4 linked regions of the Homo sapiens genome follow. The protein of the gene in region 1 purifies or fractionates together with the protein of each later gene. This does not show direct contact. Each region holds a gene or a part of one and is shown on either strand. Other genes may lie near its edges.

Region 1 (5,195 bases):
ACGTTGGCCTCCCAAAGTGCTGGGATTACAGGCGTGAGCCACCATGCCTGGCCTACAAAATTAACTTTTAAAAAGCCGCTATATTGGTGTACTACATCATTGACTACTTTGTGTTCACCTTTCTGTCGTTTTTGTGACAGGCCATCCTCTATCTGTGGTGTTGTTTGTTGTTTCTTGGTTTTAATTGTTCCTCATCATACTTATTTATTTATTTTTGAGATGGAGTTTCGCTCTTGTTGCCCAGGCCAGAGTGCAATGGCGCGATCTTGGCTCACCGCAACCTCCGCCTCCCAGGTTCAAGTGATTCTCCTGCCTCAGCTTCCTGAGTAGCTGGGATTACAGGCATGTGCCACCACTCCTGGCTAATTTTGTATTTTTAGTAGAGACGGGGTTTCTCCATGTTGGTCAGGCTGGTCTCAAACTCCCAACCTCTGCTGATCTGCCCGCCTCAGTTTCCCAAAGTGCTGGGATTACAGGTGTGAGCCACTGTGCCCGGCATCATACTTCTTTATACTTTTCCATTTCTAAATTCATACTCTTTCAATGAATGATTCTAATTGCTCTTGGTCATTTTAAGTTTCATTTCATTTTTCTATGACATTAACTACATTTTGGTATTAACCAAACTTTCTGCTGTATGCAGACCTAACTACTAGAGCCTTGATACTTTGATCCAGGTCCTTGCTAAACATGTTTAATATTTTTGACAATAAGACTGTATTCTCCCTGCATGTACATATCCTTTTTTATTTTTATTTATTTTTTCTTTTTTAGATGTGAATATCTCTTGATTTGTATATTTAGCTAGTAATATAGCTAAGACCCTTTTCTGTGTGTGTGTGTGTGTAAGATAAGAATCTCGTTCTGTTACCCAGGCTGGAATTCAGTGGCGTGAACACAGCTTACTGCAGTCTCGACCTCAGGGCTCAAGTGATCCTCCTGCCTCAGCCTCCTCCTGAGTGGCTAGCACCACAGGTGTACCCTACCATGCCTGCCTACTTTTTAATTTTTATTTCTTTGTAGAAACAGGGCCTTGCCATGTTGCCCAGGCTGGTCTTGGACTCTTGGGCTCAAGCTATCCTCCCACCCTGGCCTCCCAAAGTGCTGGGATTACAGATGTAATCCCAGTCTAGTTAAGACTCTTATAAAAGTATTTTTGGGGTTGTAATTAAATGTATCTTGTCTTCTGACCGAGAGCTTGATCTGACCCATCATTTGGTACTGTGGTAATAGGTAAAGATGAAACATACAAATTAAACCAGAATGTCACTGTTCTTTCTGTGTTATTTTGATTATTTCAAAGAATGTATTTTGTTGAGCTTTAGGATTCTTAGGAAACCCTTGTGAAACACTGTATTGTAAGTTTATGAATCATGTTGTCATGTAAGATATAACTCAAGACTTGATAAAAGTTCAGATTATTCCATTCGTTTCTCACCGGAAATAAAAATTTGCCTACCACATCTGTTGCCCAGGCTGGAATGCAGTGGCGCGATCTCGGCTCACTGCAAGCTCCGACTGCCAGGTTCACGCCATTCTCCTGCCTCAGCCTCCCAAGTAGCTGGGACTAAAGGTGCCCACCACCATGCCTGGCTGATTTTTTTGTATCGTTTTTAGTAGAGACGGGGTTTCACAGTGTTAGCCAGGATGGTCTCGATCTCCTGACCTCGTGATCCGCCCATCTCGGCCTCTCAAATTGCTGGGATTACAGGTGTGAGCCACCGCGCCCGGCCACACCTTGTTTTTTACAGCATTACTGAAATCTGATAATTACCGACTACTGAACTGAGTGTCAAAAGACAAGGATATAAAATGAACTAAAATGTACCCACCACATCGTTAATAGTGGAAAATAATATGGGCAAAATATTGGGAGACCTTTGTTAGATTGGCATTTTTATTATTTATTTATTTATTTATTTATTTTTTGAGACAGAGTTTCGCTCTTGTTGCCCAGGCTGGAGTGCAGTGGTGCCATCTCACCTCACTGCAACCTCTGCCTCCTGGGTTCAAGCAATTCTCCTGCCTCAGCCTCCCGAGTAGTTGTGACTACAGGTGTCCACAGCCTTTGGAAGGCTAAGGCGGGTGGATCACCTGAGGTCAGGAGTTCAAGACCAGCCTGGCCAACATGGTGAAACTCTGTCTCTACTAAAAATATAAAAATTAGCCAGGTGTGGTGGCAGGTGCTTGTTGTATGTACTACAGGCACATACAACCTTGCCTGGCTAATTTTTAGTATTTTTTGGGCAAAACGCCCAACAGGGTTTTGCCATGTTGCTTAGGTTGGTCTTGGACTCCTGAGCTCAAGTGATCCTCCATCCTCAGCCTCCCAAAGTGCTGGGATTACAGGCATAAGCCTCCATGCCTGGCCTCCTTCCTTTTGAAGGATAAATAATATTCCACTGTATGTATATAACACATTTTGTTCATTCATCCATGGGTGGGCGTTTGGGTTACTTCTACCTTTTGGCTATTGTAAATAATGCTGCTATGAACCTGGGTGTATGAATATCTCTTTGAGACCCTGCTTTAATTCTTTTTTGTTTTGTTTTTTCTTGAGACGGAGTCTCGCTCTGTCACCCAGGCTGGAGTGCAGTAGCGCGATCTCGGCTCACTGCAAGCTCCACCTCCTGGGTTCACCCCATTCTCCTGCCTTAGCCTCCTGAGTAGCTGGGACTACAGGTGCCTGCCACCACGTCCGGCTAATTTTTTTGTATTTTTAGTAGAGACGGGGTTTCACCGTGTTAGCCAGGATGGTCTCGATCTCCTGACCTCGTGATCTGCCCGCCTCTGCCTCCCAAAGTGCTAGGATTACAGGTGTGAGCCAACCACGCCCGGCCGAGACCCCGCTTTAATGCTTTTGGGCATATACCCAAAAGTGGAATTGCTAGATCATATGGTAATTCTATTTTTGATTTTTGAGGAAGCGCCATCCTAATGGGTGTTATATATCTCATGTTGGTAAAGTATATTTTTTTAAAAAGAAAAATATTACTTAAAAAAATCTTTATTTTGGCCTTGGCAACAGAGCAAGACTCCGTCTCAAAAAAAAAAACTTTATTTTAATGGAAACAAACTATATTTGGCCAGGTTTAGCACATAGTAAATATGTGAAGTGCTCCAGTATATTTCTTGAGATTGAAGATGTGCATATAGATGTTGACACGTTTAAGGATTCAGCAAATTTGTAATCAGACCATATTAATTTCAGTGGTTCTCTTAATTAAAGGGTGAATCAAGTGTTATGTATTATTTTGCTAAACCGAACACATTATTTTCGTTAGATTAGAAGCAGAATGTCAGTGTAGTTGCAGCAGAGCGGAGGCATTGAGTAAATGTGTTGAATAAATAAATGAATAAATACCTTATGAAGGATTTGGAACCCAGGGATTCTTATCATTTTCTGGACAGTAACCGGTTTTAGGGATGATAAAACTTTTCCCCAAATGTCTGTATACATACAAAACTTTGCACGTGAAAAGTTTAGGGAATTTCACCTGAATAACAATTGTATTAACCAGCAGTTAAGTTTTATCCACCACATTAAACATAAGCTCCCTCCTCCTGATAACCTTAAAAAAGGTATTTTCAGCTCTAATATTCTGAATGTAATGTTGGGGAAAAAAAACCTCCCAGGAGGTGTTATTAATACAAGGATTCATAACCAGAATTACATCACCAGATATTGGAATGAGCAGTATTAAATCAGTCAGATTACCAATGAGAAAAGTCAATACCAACTTGTAAGGACTGAAATATTTATGTTAACATGGTTCTTTTTATAGATTTCTCACTTAAAAATTTTCTCACTCACTTAATTACTCAAAGAACATCTTCAGTTACTAACTGGAGAAACTGAAAATGAAAGAAGAAATGGGTGAGAGTGGAATCCTCCCACCTCAGCCTCCCCAGCAGCTGGGACTACAGGCACAGGCCACCTTGTGTGGCTAATTTTTAAAAAAATTTTCTTTAGAGACACTGGGTTTCACCATGTTCCCCTGGCTGGTCTGGAACTCCTGGGCTCAAGTGATCCTCCCACCTTGGCCTCTCACAGTGCTGGGATTACAGAGATAAGGCACCACACCAAGCCCTGAGTCAGATTTTAATAAATTCAGTTTCCATTAGAGTGGAAAATTTTCAAATTAATGAATTATTTATTTATATATTTTTTGAGACAGAGTCTTGCTCTGTCGCCCAGTCTGGAGTGCAGTGGCATGATGTTGGCTCACTGCAGCCTCTGCCTCGTGGGTTCAAGCAATTCTCCTCCTTCAGCCTCCCCAGTAGCTGGGATTATAACCTTGCATCACCACCCCCAGCTAAATTTTTTTTTTTTTTGTATTTTAGTAGAGATGGGGTTTCACCATGTTGGCCAGGCTGGTCTCGAACTCCTCACCTCAAGTGATCCACCCACCTTGGCCTCCCAGAGTGCTGGGATTACAGGCGTGAGCCCCAGTGCCTTACCAGAATGGAAATATTTAAGTAAACAAAATATTTCTAAATGTAAACTAATGGCCTACTTATTTAGCAATTTCAGTTCAGTTCTTAGGAGTTTAATATTTCATCTATATTTTAATTAACCACAGATATTAGGCTTTCTCAAAGATAACATTTTGTCCTAATTTTAGTTTCTCAAATCGTTATTAAGGTTATGATGGCAACCCAGCTTGTGAAGTAATAGATGATAATAATATAGTCAGGAAATATCATTTGGTAACCAAGGCTTCAGCAAAGTATTAAGATTTTTGTGTTTGTGAGTGTTATAGGTAACACTGTTGGCCCCCAACATTGTCATTTTGTACACTTTGTTGATCAGTGGCCTGAATTCATTAAAATTCACACTACATGCCTCAAAAAGAATATTGGATCCCAGCCTAGGTTGTTGAGTATATTCCTGTCCTTTATTAAAATGTAGGTTGATAGAAAGGTGGTAGGGATATTTAAATCTATCATGCTAATTTACTTTCTTTGTATCACAGCAAGGATAGGGAATTAGGAAAAGATTACTCACTCAATAGAGAAAAGGTAGATAGAAAATCCAGTATTATCTTGACAAAGCAGTGAATGTTTTAGTATGATTGAGGATAGGTAATCTAGTGCTAAAGTTGGTCACAGAATTTCCTGCACAAAATGAAAGATCTGTGTATGGGAATGCTAGAGAATTTGACTTCTCAGAAATATATAGACCAACAGTGGTT
Region 2 (4,265 bases), on another chromosome or scaffold:
TATGGATTATCTGAGGTCATTTAACTAAGATACAAGAAAATTGGGATTTGACCTCAAACTTATGTTTTTTACATTATTTTGTGATAACTTGGTACTAGGATCTGAACCACCTGGTTCTGTAATTTATGATGCCTGTGGAGAGTGCATGTTCATAGTAGCCAGAAGACAGTAACATGGCAAGGGGGAAAGGAAAAGGAATTATCTTTGTCTCACCCCAAACAATAATGATACTGACATTTTATTGTGCACGGTGGTTTTCAAAACACTTCATACGAATTTCCCATTTTATAGCTGGGACCACAGAGCCTCAGGGTTTCATTCAAGGCCTCACAGCCAATAAATAGCAAAACTGGGACTCAAACCCAGAATTTCTGACTAAATTCAGTTTTATTACTCCAAGAACCTCTCCCACATAGTTGGCCACATGGACAGAGGAAGTGGTTGAGTTTAAGTGTGAGTGCTCTGTGCAGGCTGGATGGTCTTCTTATCCTCAAGCATCTGTGGATGTCATTGAAGAGCCTGACTTCCTAATCACTTCCCAGGATCACCAGGCAATACGTGATTACTGACTGACTGAATCAATATACACTTGGATCTTGGTTTGCAAACTTTCACTTGGTGTCCCGCATCACACAGGTCCAGAAACAGCGAAACTTTTCTCATACCTCTCAACCTCTGGGTGTTCATGTAGACAAGGGACAGTTGATGGTTATACAAACCATCATGGTTATAAAAAATCTCTATTCGGTGCCTAGTTATTGTGTATTTTTGGTGTGGCATGGGAAGAAAAGAGCCAAGATATTTTGAAAATCGACACCTCTTTTGCAGTATCCGAGGCCAATTACTTTCTGTAAGAGGAGGTCGATTTCCAATTAGCATTTAAGGTCATTTAAGACCTTTGCAGTCTCCCCTGCACTAGTTGGGGCTCTTTCTGGGAAAGAGGGAAACTACAAGAGAACTACAAGGCTGGCATTGAGGGGCTCTTGCAGTCTCTAAACCCACCATCCCTTTCATTGTTGAACTGGGGTGGTGAGCCTGCACAAGCATGGGTGGTAGCTGACTTCCCTTGGGCAGGTCCAGAACAGGGAGCAGCATTCTGCAGAAGGTCCTTTTCCAGATTGAGAAACCCAAACCCTGATCTCCTCTTTTGATGATTTTACAAAAATCAAATTGCATGACAGATGCCCAGATAAACAGAAGTTTGCAATCAAAGCAAGTTCTGGGATGGAGCTGATTAGTAGATTTTTAATGGCTATTAGCTTGATAATCACGCACCAGGAATAGCTCCCAGGCAGACCAAACCCACGTATAAGTGGATCCACACCCATGTACACAACACCTAGTTGGCAGGTATATAAGGGGACCCTGAAAGCCTCCCAGCAGCACAGTTGAGTCTCCAGCCTTGACTCTTCTCAAGAGCCTGTGACTTTCCTCCCTGGACAAAGGCATCATGAGTTGTCAGATCTCTTGCAAATCTCGAGGAAGAGGAGGAGGTGGAGGAGGATTCCGGGGCTTCAGCAGCGGCTCAGCTGTGGTGTCTGGTGGAAGCCGGAGATCAACTTCCAGCTTCTCCTGCTTGAGCCGCCATGGTGGTGGTGGCGGGGGCTTCGGTGGAGGCGGCTTTGGCAGTCGGAGTCTTGTTGGCCTTGGAGGGACCAAGAGCATCTCCATTAGTGTGGCTGGAGGAGGTGGTGGCTTTGGCGCCGCTGGTGGATTTGGTGGCAGAGGAGGTGGTTTTGGAGGCGGCAGCAGCTTTGGAGGTGGCAGCGGCTTCAGTGGTGGTGGTTTCGGTGGAGGCGGCTTTGGTGGAGGCCGCTTTGGAGGTTTTGGGGGCCCTGGTGGTGTTGGAGGTTTAGGGGGTCCTGGTGGCTTTGGGCCTGGAGGATACCCTGGTGGCATCCACGAAGTCTCTGTCAACCAGAGCCTCCTGCAGCCTCTCAACGTGAAAGTTGACCCAGAGATCCAGAATGTGAAGGCCCAAGAGCGTGAGCAGATCAAAACTCTCAACAACAAATTTGCCTCCTTCATTGACAAGGTGACTCTGGAGAAGACGGCTCCCACTGATGCTCAGGCCACTTCACTTCCAGAGCCAACCAAAAAGAAAATGGCACAGATTTGTATTTCTTAGGAGCCAGTGGTGTACCGCAGTAGCCTGGGTCATTTGCGGTTTCCAGATGGAAAAGACGCCAGCTTTGTGGGTTACATTTCCCATAACAGCCTGCACTTAGGAAGCATTTGTCCCTTTGACCTTATTGTTACAGTCCATATAAATAATATTTATGGAAAATTCTGAAAACCATAAAAAATGGATATAGGCAAGTATTGAACTGATCCTTGGGACAGGCCACTGGAGCAGCAGGTTTTGGAAGCCATCGTCTTCTGAGATAGTGTTTCCTTCCTTAGCAGTGATTACTAAACTCTGGGAAGCTGAACCTGAAATATCTGCTTGGGAATGCAGGAAATTCCTGCCTTCAAGAGAAGCGTTCTCAGTTTTGTGATCCATAAAGTCTTTATTGGTGTCACTTCGGAGTGTTACTGGCTTTTCTCCTATTTCAAGGCAGACGAACCTGTCTTGGTTTATCTGCCTTGAAATAGGCAGGGATTTACAAGGCTCTTAAAAATCAGGCTGAGGAGCCCTGCCCTCTGGGACTCTCATACTCAGCACCCTTGCGAGCAGTGCCAGCAGATGGCTGCTTTCGGTTTTCCCCAGAATTTATGGGATCTTGGCTGGAAATTCAACCAGGATGCGGGGAGGGAAATGGTCTAGAGTATTGGGAGCAGCTGCAAACAAACCAGTGAGCAGTGAAGCAGCAAAGAGTCTCCTCTGCGTGGAGAGAGCCGGATGTAGCATTAGGAGTCTGTGGGACTTTCCAGGGGCGAAAGCAGGGAGCTCAGAAGCTCTGCCAGTCATGACTCGGCATCCAGCCTCAGACACTTCTCGAGGTCCTGAAGCAGCACCTGAGCTGCCCCTGGCCAGCGTGGCTTGCTTGGTGTGAAGGATGATCTAGAACTCATGTGCTCTCCTTCTGGTCATGGCAGGTGCGGTTCTTGGAGCAGCAGAACCAGGTGTTACAGACCAAATGGGAGCTGCTACAACAAATGAATGTTGGCACCCGCCCCATCAACCTGGAGCCCATCTTCCAGGGGTATATCGACAGCCTCAAGAGATATCTGGATGGGCTCACTGCAGAAAGAACATCACAGAATTCAGAGCTGAATAACATGCAGGATCTTGTGGAGGATTATAAGAAGAAGTAGGTGGCAGAGTGAAACGCTGAGTGGAGATAAACATTGCACTGAGCCATTTGATCACTCCCTGGAAAGCCATTCATCTCCCAGTTGCATTTGTGGTGGTAATGGGGAGAGGCATATGTATCTTTGTTGATTATTTGTGAGGAAGACAGTGAGACTTTAGAGATCATTTTTGTCTTTTGTATGTTTGAGAGTTAGTTTATAAAAATATATCTTTAGTTTGGAAATCTTAGTTTCAATTTAGATATTTAAAAAGTGTGTAATATTCCCAGAGAATGGGGCATTTGGGGTGAATCCAGTATAAAAGGAAAAGAAAAAAAATGAAGGGGAACTAATCTAACTGCTGTAACATCTGTGTCCCAATAGGTATGAGGATGAAATCAATAAGCGCACAGCTGCTGAGAATGATTTTGTGACGCTTAAAAAGGTGAGCGAGAGAATGTCTTGGCTGGGGGTGGGGATAGGAGTGCTTCACAGCCCCATTGTGTCTAAGCAGCCAGTTTGGAAATCAACTGTGAGTGCAAAAGCAGCAGCCAGAGAAAGGAGTGAGACCCATGGCACATTCTCTTGCAAACAAAATTGTCTCTGTAGGTCAAGCTTCTGGATACAGTTTTCAAAGCTGTTCTGCATTTTTGGTAGAGTGCTTCCCAGTAGTAACCCACTTAAAGCCTCTACTGAATCATGATAAATGCAAACACAAAAATCTCTTTGTATTCTCCTTCTAAAGAGCTGAGGAAGGAATGGGACTTCCCTTAGAATGCCTGCTTAAAGTTGCTGTTGGTTGTGCTGACAAAGGTTTGAGGTTGTAGGCCAAAAGCAAGGGTTCTCCTGCTGGGTCCTGCAGGGCCTTTGGTGTATATTCTGGGGAAATTTCGGAGAGGTGAGATGGACAGACGGGATGAGAGAGCTGAGGACTGTGGAAACCCACAAAGAACATCGTATCCTGTTGTAGAAACACACAGTGTCTCAAGCAGGAGAGAGGGGCTGGTTGGCAAAGCTTGGTCATCTCGAGG
Region 3 (3,158 bases), on another chromosome or scaffold:
GTTCGGTTTTTTTTTTCCCAGCTCCTGGTCCTGCTCCCCGGCTGCTCAGGTGACACAGTCTCTGAGGCCTCCTGGAGAGCCGAGGGCCAGTGCCATGGGGGCTGCACCCACTGTCCCCTCCCTGCAGCTCTTCTGGAGTGTGGCCATCTCAGGGTGTGTGAAAGCAGAGGACAGGGCCACTTTACTGTCTTAACCCTGCTGCGGCCTCCTCCGTCAGCACTGTGTGCTCTTGTGCGGGGTGGACACCAAATCAGTGTTTGGAAAGTGTTGGATATAAAATGACCAGGAAGACCTGTCTATTCATTCAGCAGATCTCTGCTGAGTATTTGCTGTGGGTCCTCCTGTGTGCCCGGCCCTGTCCTAAGTGCTGGGAAGATATGAGTGACCAACAGACAAAAATCCTAGACCTTCCGTTGTTGGTGGGGAGACAGTCAACACAGTCAGTGAGTGTCTCAGAGGATGGAGATGGAGCAGGGTTAGGAGAGAGGTGTCTCGGGCATGGAGGGAAGGGCAGATGGCACTGGGGTGATGCCTGAGACAGGAGGTGAAGGTGTGAGGGAATGAGCCTTGTGGACATTGGGGGAATGTTTTGCCAAGGCAGCGGACTTCAGTTGGAAAACCACTTTGTGTTAATCTATTTTCATGCTGCTGATAAAGACATACCCGAGACTGGGAAGAAAAAGAGGTTTAATTGGCCTTACAGTTCCACATGGCTAGGGAGGCCTCAGAATCATGGTAGGAGACCAAAGGCACTTCTTACATGCTGGTGGCAAGAGAAAATGAAGAAACAAAAGTGGAAACCCCTGATAAACCCATCAGATCTCGTGAGACTTCACCATCACGAGAATAGCACGGGAAAGACCAGCCCCCATGATTCAGTTACCTCCCCCTGGGTCCCTCCCACAACATGTGGGAATTCTGGGAGATAGATACAGTTCAAGTTGAAATGTGGGTGGGGGCACAGCTAAACCATATCACACTTTTAATGTCACTGTATTCCTGGTGAGACGTGACAGTGTTAATGAGGAAGACATCAAGGCATTGGGGCTACAGATTGCCAGAGTCCCATGCAAATCATGAGTCGCTCGGACCACCCAGCCCGAGTTCTGAAGGAGCCCGTCCTCCTCAGATGCTAGGGACCCACAGAGCATTCTCTTTGGGACTTCCTTAGAGACCGGAGGGGTCGAGCCCCTCTGACACTGAGGGGCAGCTGCCCCAGTCAGATCCATTTGGTTTCAGGTCTGTGGCCCCTCTCGCACCAACCCCAGCATGATGATTGATGACCTCCTGACTCCATGCTCACCAGGGGACCCAGGAGCCATGGAGATGACTTGGATGGATGTCCCTGGGGACAAACTCTTAGAGCCTGTGGTTTGCATGGTAAGTGACTTGACAGGGGAGGGAAGAGGGCTGCACAGAGCCCAGAAAATTGAGGGTTTGGGTCCAGAATAAAAACGGTCTTCTCCAGGCCAGGCATGGTAGCTCACGCCTGTAATCCCAGCACTTTGGGAGGCCAGGGTGGGCAGATCACAAGGTTAGGAGTTCGAGACCAGCCTAGCCAATATGGAGAAACCCTGTCTCTACTAAAAATACAAAAATTAGCCGGGTGTGGTGGTGTGCACTTGTAGTCCCAGCTACTCAGGAGGCTGAGGCAGAAGGATCGCTTGAAGCCGGGAGGCAGAGGTTGCAGTGAGCAGAGATTGGGCCACTGCACTCCAGCCTGGGTGACAGAGTGAGACTCCGTCTCAAAAATAAAAAATAGTCTTCTTCTATGTCCTGGGCTGTTGAGAATGGCCTTTGTAGCTCAGGGAAGCTGGCATTACACTCACTGGGGGCCCAGAATGCAGGTGGCAGCATTAGCATTTTGTACATACAGAGAAAGGCTAGATGCAGTGGTGCAGTGATAGCTCACTGCAGGCTTGACCTCACGAGCTCACACAATCTTCTGACCTCAGCCTCCTGAGTAGCAACAGGCACACACCATCATGCCCAGCTAATTTTTCCTTTTTTTTTTAGAAACGGCCTCACAGTGTTGCCCAGGCCAGTCTGAAACTGCTGGGCTCAAGTGATCCTCTCAGCGTGGCCTCCCAAAGTGCTGGGATTACAAGCATGAGCTGAGCCACCACACCTAGCCTGCATTTTATATTCTTTAGCAAGTAAAGTCAGGTCCAGATAATATGACGTCAATCCATGGGTTTGGCTTTGCGGTGCAGTGAGGCAGTGAATGTGTCAAGACTGTGACGCAGTTGCAAAGGCAGCGCCTCACCTGCATAGCCTGGCCCGTGCCATCCTGGCAAGGGTCTGCCCTTGTGGCTGGTGTTGGGGGTGTGCAGCTAAGAAGGCTCCTGGCCGGGCGCCGTGGCTCCCGCCTGTAATCCCAGCACTTCGGGAGGCCGAGGCGGGCAGATCGCCTGAGGTCAGGAGTTCAAGAGCAGCCTGGCCAACATAGTGAAACCCCGTCTCTGCTAAAAATACAAAAATCAGCCATGTGTGGTGGCACGTGCCTGTAGTCCCAGCTATTTGGGAGGCTGAGGCAGGAGAGTCACTTGAACCGAGGAGGTGGAGGTTGCGGTGAGCCGAGATCATGCCACTGCACTCCAGCCTGGGTGACAGACTCCGTCTCCAAAAAAAAAAAAAAAAAAAAAGAAAGCAAGTTCGTAAGGGGAGTTATGAGATGATGGAGCTTAGATTCTCAGACCAGGAGGAGGCCCATCTGAGCTGCCTCGAGAGGGAAGAGGGTCCCTGCCATAGGCAGATTCAAGCAGGCCTCTGGGGTGGCCTTGAAGGCAAACCTCTTCCCACCCTCAGCTGCGCCTGTTGTGTGCTGAGGGGAGGTTGGGGACCTGGAGCCTGGCTCCTGCTCAGGCACATACTGTTGCCTTCACAGTCGGACATGCTGCGGTCTCTGGCCACCACCCGGCCCACGGTGAATGCAGACGACCTCCTGAAAGTGAAGAAATTCTCAGAGGACTTTGGGCAAGAGAGTTAAAAGCTGCTTCACTTGGGCAATGGTGAAGGTGGGAGGTTGATTGGGGCAAATCCAGGCACTCCCCATGTCAACAGCCAGACAGGGCTCCAGGGCTTGTCCCAGTCAATACAGAGTTCCCTCTGCTGTCTGGCCGTCTGCCAGGGAGCCAGAAGGAAGGGCCTTGCAGCCA
Region 4 (3,613 bases), on another chromosome or scaffold:
GAGGTATTTATTAGCCAGAATGCACCTAAAATCCAGGCCAACATTAAATATAATGCATATATGCTATAGCTTTACCTATGCTGAATTCATCTCATAGAAGGATTTATATAATTTCAGTTTGACTTTGTTAGGACTTTTAGAGCTAATAAAAATTGTGATTTGGCTAGGAAAGGTGAGGTACATTTTATAATAAATTATCTTAAATATAAGAATGTGAATTTTATTTTTCCTAAGAATGAGAAATATAATTTTACTTATTGCTAATAGAGAAGGCAGTTTATTCTTGTTTGCATGTCCTAAAAACCAGTATTCATTTCTTTCTAAAAATGTTTATGTAGACTGGGCACAGTGGCACACGCCTGTAATCCCAGCACTTTGGGAGGCCAAGGCAGAAGGGTTGCTTGAGGCCAGGAGTTTGAGACTAGCCTGGCCAACATAGCAAGGCCCCATATCTGAATGAATGAATGAATGAATGAAAAACAAAGGAGATTATTATTTCCAATAGTCTTAGTAATGGAACATTTCCAGTTTTCTTGAGGAATGAGTTTCTTTGGTTTTAATGAATTAAAATGGCCTTTGGAAGTCCCCTCCCTCTTTCTGAGTCTCTTCTCCAGATGAGTTTGGTATCCTTAAATTGTCCCTGATACTTTTTCTTTTATTCCTCTCTCGTTCTCATTCTTTTCCTATTTTAAAAATTGTCATATGGAATTGTTGCATACACTCCTTAGGAATATGTCACACTAGAATTAGGAGGTATCCACGAGGTTATCTAATCAAATCATTTCAAAATGCAGGAATTCCTTCTATAGCATCTGACAGGTATTCACCCAGCATCTGCTAAAATACTTGCAAATATAGGGAACTTTGTACTTTGAGGGATTACGTCACTGGAGAGCTGCCTGATTATTCAACAAATGATTTTGAATGCTTAGTATATGTAAAGCCTTTCTCTGTCTGCTTTTAGACATTTCTTTATCCAGGATTTGCGCACCTGCAACTTAGATTGTCATTTCAAAGAAAAATAAAAGGTCGAGTAAATCTTCCTCTTTAGGGATATGAGAGTCAAGACTTTCTGTAGCCATATATCTCCACCGGTTGGTCATAAGTATCTGTCTTTTTAAGTAGCCTGTTTAAGGTGTAAGCCTTCATTGGAGGCTCAGGTGCACTCAAGTCACCAGATGAGTGTTCTCCCCTTTGGGATAAGGCTTTTCATAGGTTCTCATATGGAGAATGTTTCTCTTAGCTACTCCCTTAGCCATGCACACAAAGTAGCTCTTTGGTTAATGATTTGTTTCTGGGATATCTTGATATCAAGAAGCTGGTCTGGAAAGCGGATATAAGCATTCTGGTCCCAAGAAAAGGATATCCCTATTTGAATTTAAATAGACCTTCTGATTTATAATTTTTAGAAAACTTATTAACAACTGATTGACATTACTTTGTGTTGTGTGTTTGCCCTCAGAGTTTCAAGAAGTTTTTAACCGAAGTGTCATGATTATTGCAGCAACAAATAGACCTGATGTGTTAGATACTGCTTTGTTACGACCTGGAAGATTAGATAAGATCATCTATATCCCACCTCCAGATCACAAGGTAGTCATTTACACATTTACTCTGTGTGAGCTCAGCAGAATTGAATTCCAACTTGGATATAGGTGTCCATGGTGTTCTACTTACCCTGGGTTCCGCCTTCTTCCTTGCCTGGTGGCCTTTCATGACATCATAATTTTGATCTTCCTTTGTTGGATACTCTGATCTTGTTCACAGAGAAACATAAGCCTAAATATATGGTGGTTATTTTTTGTGTTGTGGCAGACTCTAAATACTGAGTCTACTCAGCGTTATTTTGCAACTAGAGTGGAGGAATCCTAAAGTGTTAAAAGGGCTTTGAAGATTGAGTCAGCATCCTTATCATACAGTGCAGAAGTCTGAAATTACAGAGATTATGCAGTGTATCGTGGTCAACCAGTAAATTTGTTGTCCGTAAAGTACGGTGCAGAAATCTGAGATTACAGAGATTATGCAGTGTATCATGGTCAACCAGTACATTTTTTGTCGTTAACATCCAGAGCCACTGACAGGGAGGGTGAAAGGCACAGAGTGAATTTTTTTGTTCCTTGGGCTTTTATCAAGTTTTGAAGGGATAGAAAAATAAAATTTAATATCTATTATACCTTTAAGTTGTATCTGATAATTCATGTATTTGCTTCTTAAGCCATGTCTGATAGTATTATTTGTACCCAAGAGAGAGATTTAGCCGGGCGTGGTGGCTCACATCTGTAATCCCAGCACTTTGGGAGGCCAAGGCGGGTAGATCACCAGAGGTCAGGAGTTCGAGACTAGCCTGGCCAACATGGTGAAACCCCATCTCTACTAAAAATACAAAAATTAGCTGGATGTGGTGGCAGGCGCCTGTAATCCCAGCTACTTGGGAGGCTGAGACAGGAGAATCACTTGAACCCGGGAGGTGGAGGTTGTAGTGAGCCAAGATCGTGCCAGTGTACTCCAGCCTGGGTGACAGAGCGAGACTCCATCTCAAAAAAAAAAAAAAAAAAAAGATTCATAAGTTTTTTATGATGTCGTTATTTTTACCATTGTCATATAAGCCATTGATGACTTAGTCTTTCTAACCCCTATATATATTTTCTCGGTAATGTGAAAGGAAACTCAAGCTAAAAATATTTTAATAAATCATTGTGTCAAACATAAATGTTATAAGATTTAAAATACTGTTTTTTATTTTGTTCCAGGGCAGGCTTTCTATTTTAAAAGTCTGTACAAAAACCATGCCAATAGGGCCTGATGTCTCCTTAGAAAACCTCGCAGCAGAAACCTGTTTTTTTTCTGGAGCTGATCTTAGAAACCTCTGCACAGAAGTAAGTTAATTATTGAAGAAATTTGTGGTTCAAAACATTTCTGCATCTTTTCAAATCTTCATTCACTCAGCAGTATTTACTAAAAGCCTGTGTGGTACCATGTGATGTGAAACAGACAGATGTGGCCCCATCCCTCACACAGCTTATTGTAAGTGTGGGGTGGTGAGGAGGGTGGTGCAGAGAGGCAAATCTTAATACTGAGTTGGCAATTGAAAATATGTAGTGAGTTGCGGAAGTAGAGGGTACTGTGGGAGCACCTAGGAAAGACACCAGCCCAGATTTGGCACATCAGAGAAGGCTTTCTGAGAAAGGAGATGTATAAACTGAAATTGGAAGGACAAATCGGGAGTTAGCCAGCTAAGAAGGGAAGGGGGAATGTTTGAGGTGGAGAGAATAAAATGTGCAAAGGATTGAAGATAAGAGATGGTGTGACATTATTGAATCTTAGAGTGGAGAATGGCAAGAAATAAAGCGAAAGAAGTGGGCTAGGCGTGGTGGCTCGTGCCTGTGATCCCAGCATTTTGGGAGGCCAAGGCGAGAGGATTGCTTTAGCCCAGGAGTTTAAGATCAGCCTGGGTAATACAGTGAGACCCCATCTCTAGAAAAAATAAAAAATTAGTCAAATGTGGTGTTAGTCCCAGCTACGTGGGGGACTAGTAGTCCCAGCTACTTGGGAGGGGGAGATGGGAGGATTGCTTGAGCCTGGGAAGCGAAGGTTGCAGTAAGATGAGATCGTG

What was found. Proteins that work in one complex are often made in the same cells at the same time.
Region 2: the proteins of METTL3 (region 1) and KRT2 purify together in Homo sapiens (affinity purification with mass spectrometry; one large-scale study listed by BioGRID and IntAct). This does not show direct contact.
Region 3: the proteins of METTL3 (region 1) and VPS4A purify together in Homo sapiens (affinity purification with mass spectrometry; one large-scale study listed by BioGRID and IntAct). This does not show direct contact.
Region 4: the proteins of METTL3 (region 1) and AFG2B purify together in Homo sapiens (affinity purification with mass spectrometry; 2 studies listed by BioGRID and IntAct, with this or other methods). This does not show direct contact.

What each region holds. Positions count from the first base shown.
Region 1 is NC_000014.9:21,503,916-21,509,110, reverse strand, and holds part of METTL3 (N(6)-adenosine-methyltransferase catalytic subunit METTL3), read left to right. Parts: intron 1-5,195. UniProt on the Homo sapiens protein: The METTL3-METTL14 heterodimer forms a N6-methyltransferase complex that methylates adenosine residues at the N(6) position of some RNAs and regulates various processes such as the circadian clock, differentiation of embryonic and hematopoietic stem cells, cortical neurogenesis, response to DNA damage, differentiation of T-cells and primary miRNA processing.
Region 2 is NC_000012.12:52,649,328-52,653,592, reverse strand, and holds the start of KRT2 (keratin, type II cytoskeletal 2 epidermal), read left to right. Parts: upstream 1-1,381; 5' UTR 1,382-1,450; coding exon 1,451-2,035; intron 2,036-3,039; coding exon 3,040-3,254; intron 3,255-3,618; coding exon 3,619-3,679; intron 3,680-4,265.
Region 3 is NC_000016.10:69,321,321-69,324,478, forward strand, and holds part of VPS4A (vacuolar protein sorting-associated protein 4A), read left to right. Parts: intron 1-1,239; coding exon 1,240-1,380; intron 1,381-2,887; coding exon 2,888-2,989; 3' UTR 2,990-3,158. UniProt on the Homo sapiens protein: Involved in late steps of the endosomal multivesicular bodies (MVB) pathway. Recognizes membrane-associated ESCRT-III assemblies and catalyzes their disassembly, possibly in combination with membrane fission.
Region 4 is NC_000015.10:45,415,807-45,419,419, forward strand, and holds part of AFG2B (ATPase family gene 2 protein homolog B), read left to right. Parts: exon of another isoform or gene 1-99; intron 100-1,462; coding exon 1,463-1,593; intron 1,594-2,750; coding exon 2,751-2,876; intron 2,877-3,613. UniProt on the Homo sapiens protein: ATP-dependent chaperone part of the 55LCC heterohexameric ATPase complex which is chromatin-associated and promotes replisome proteostasis to maintain replication fork progression and genome stability.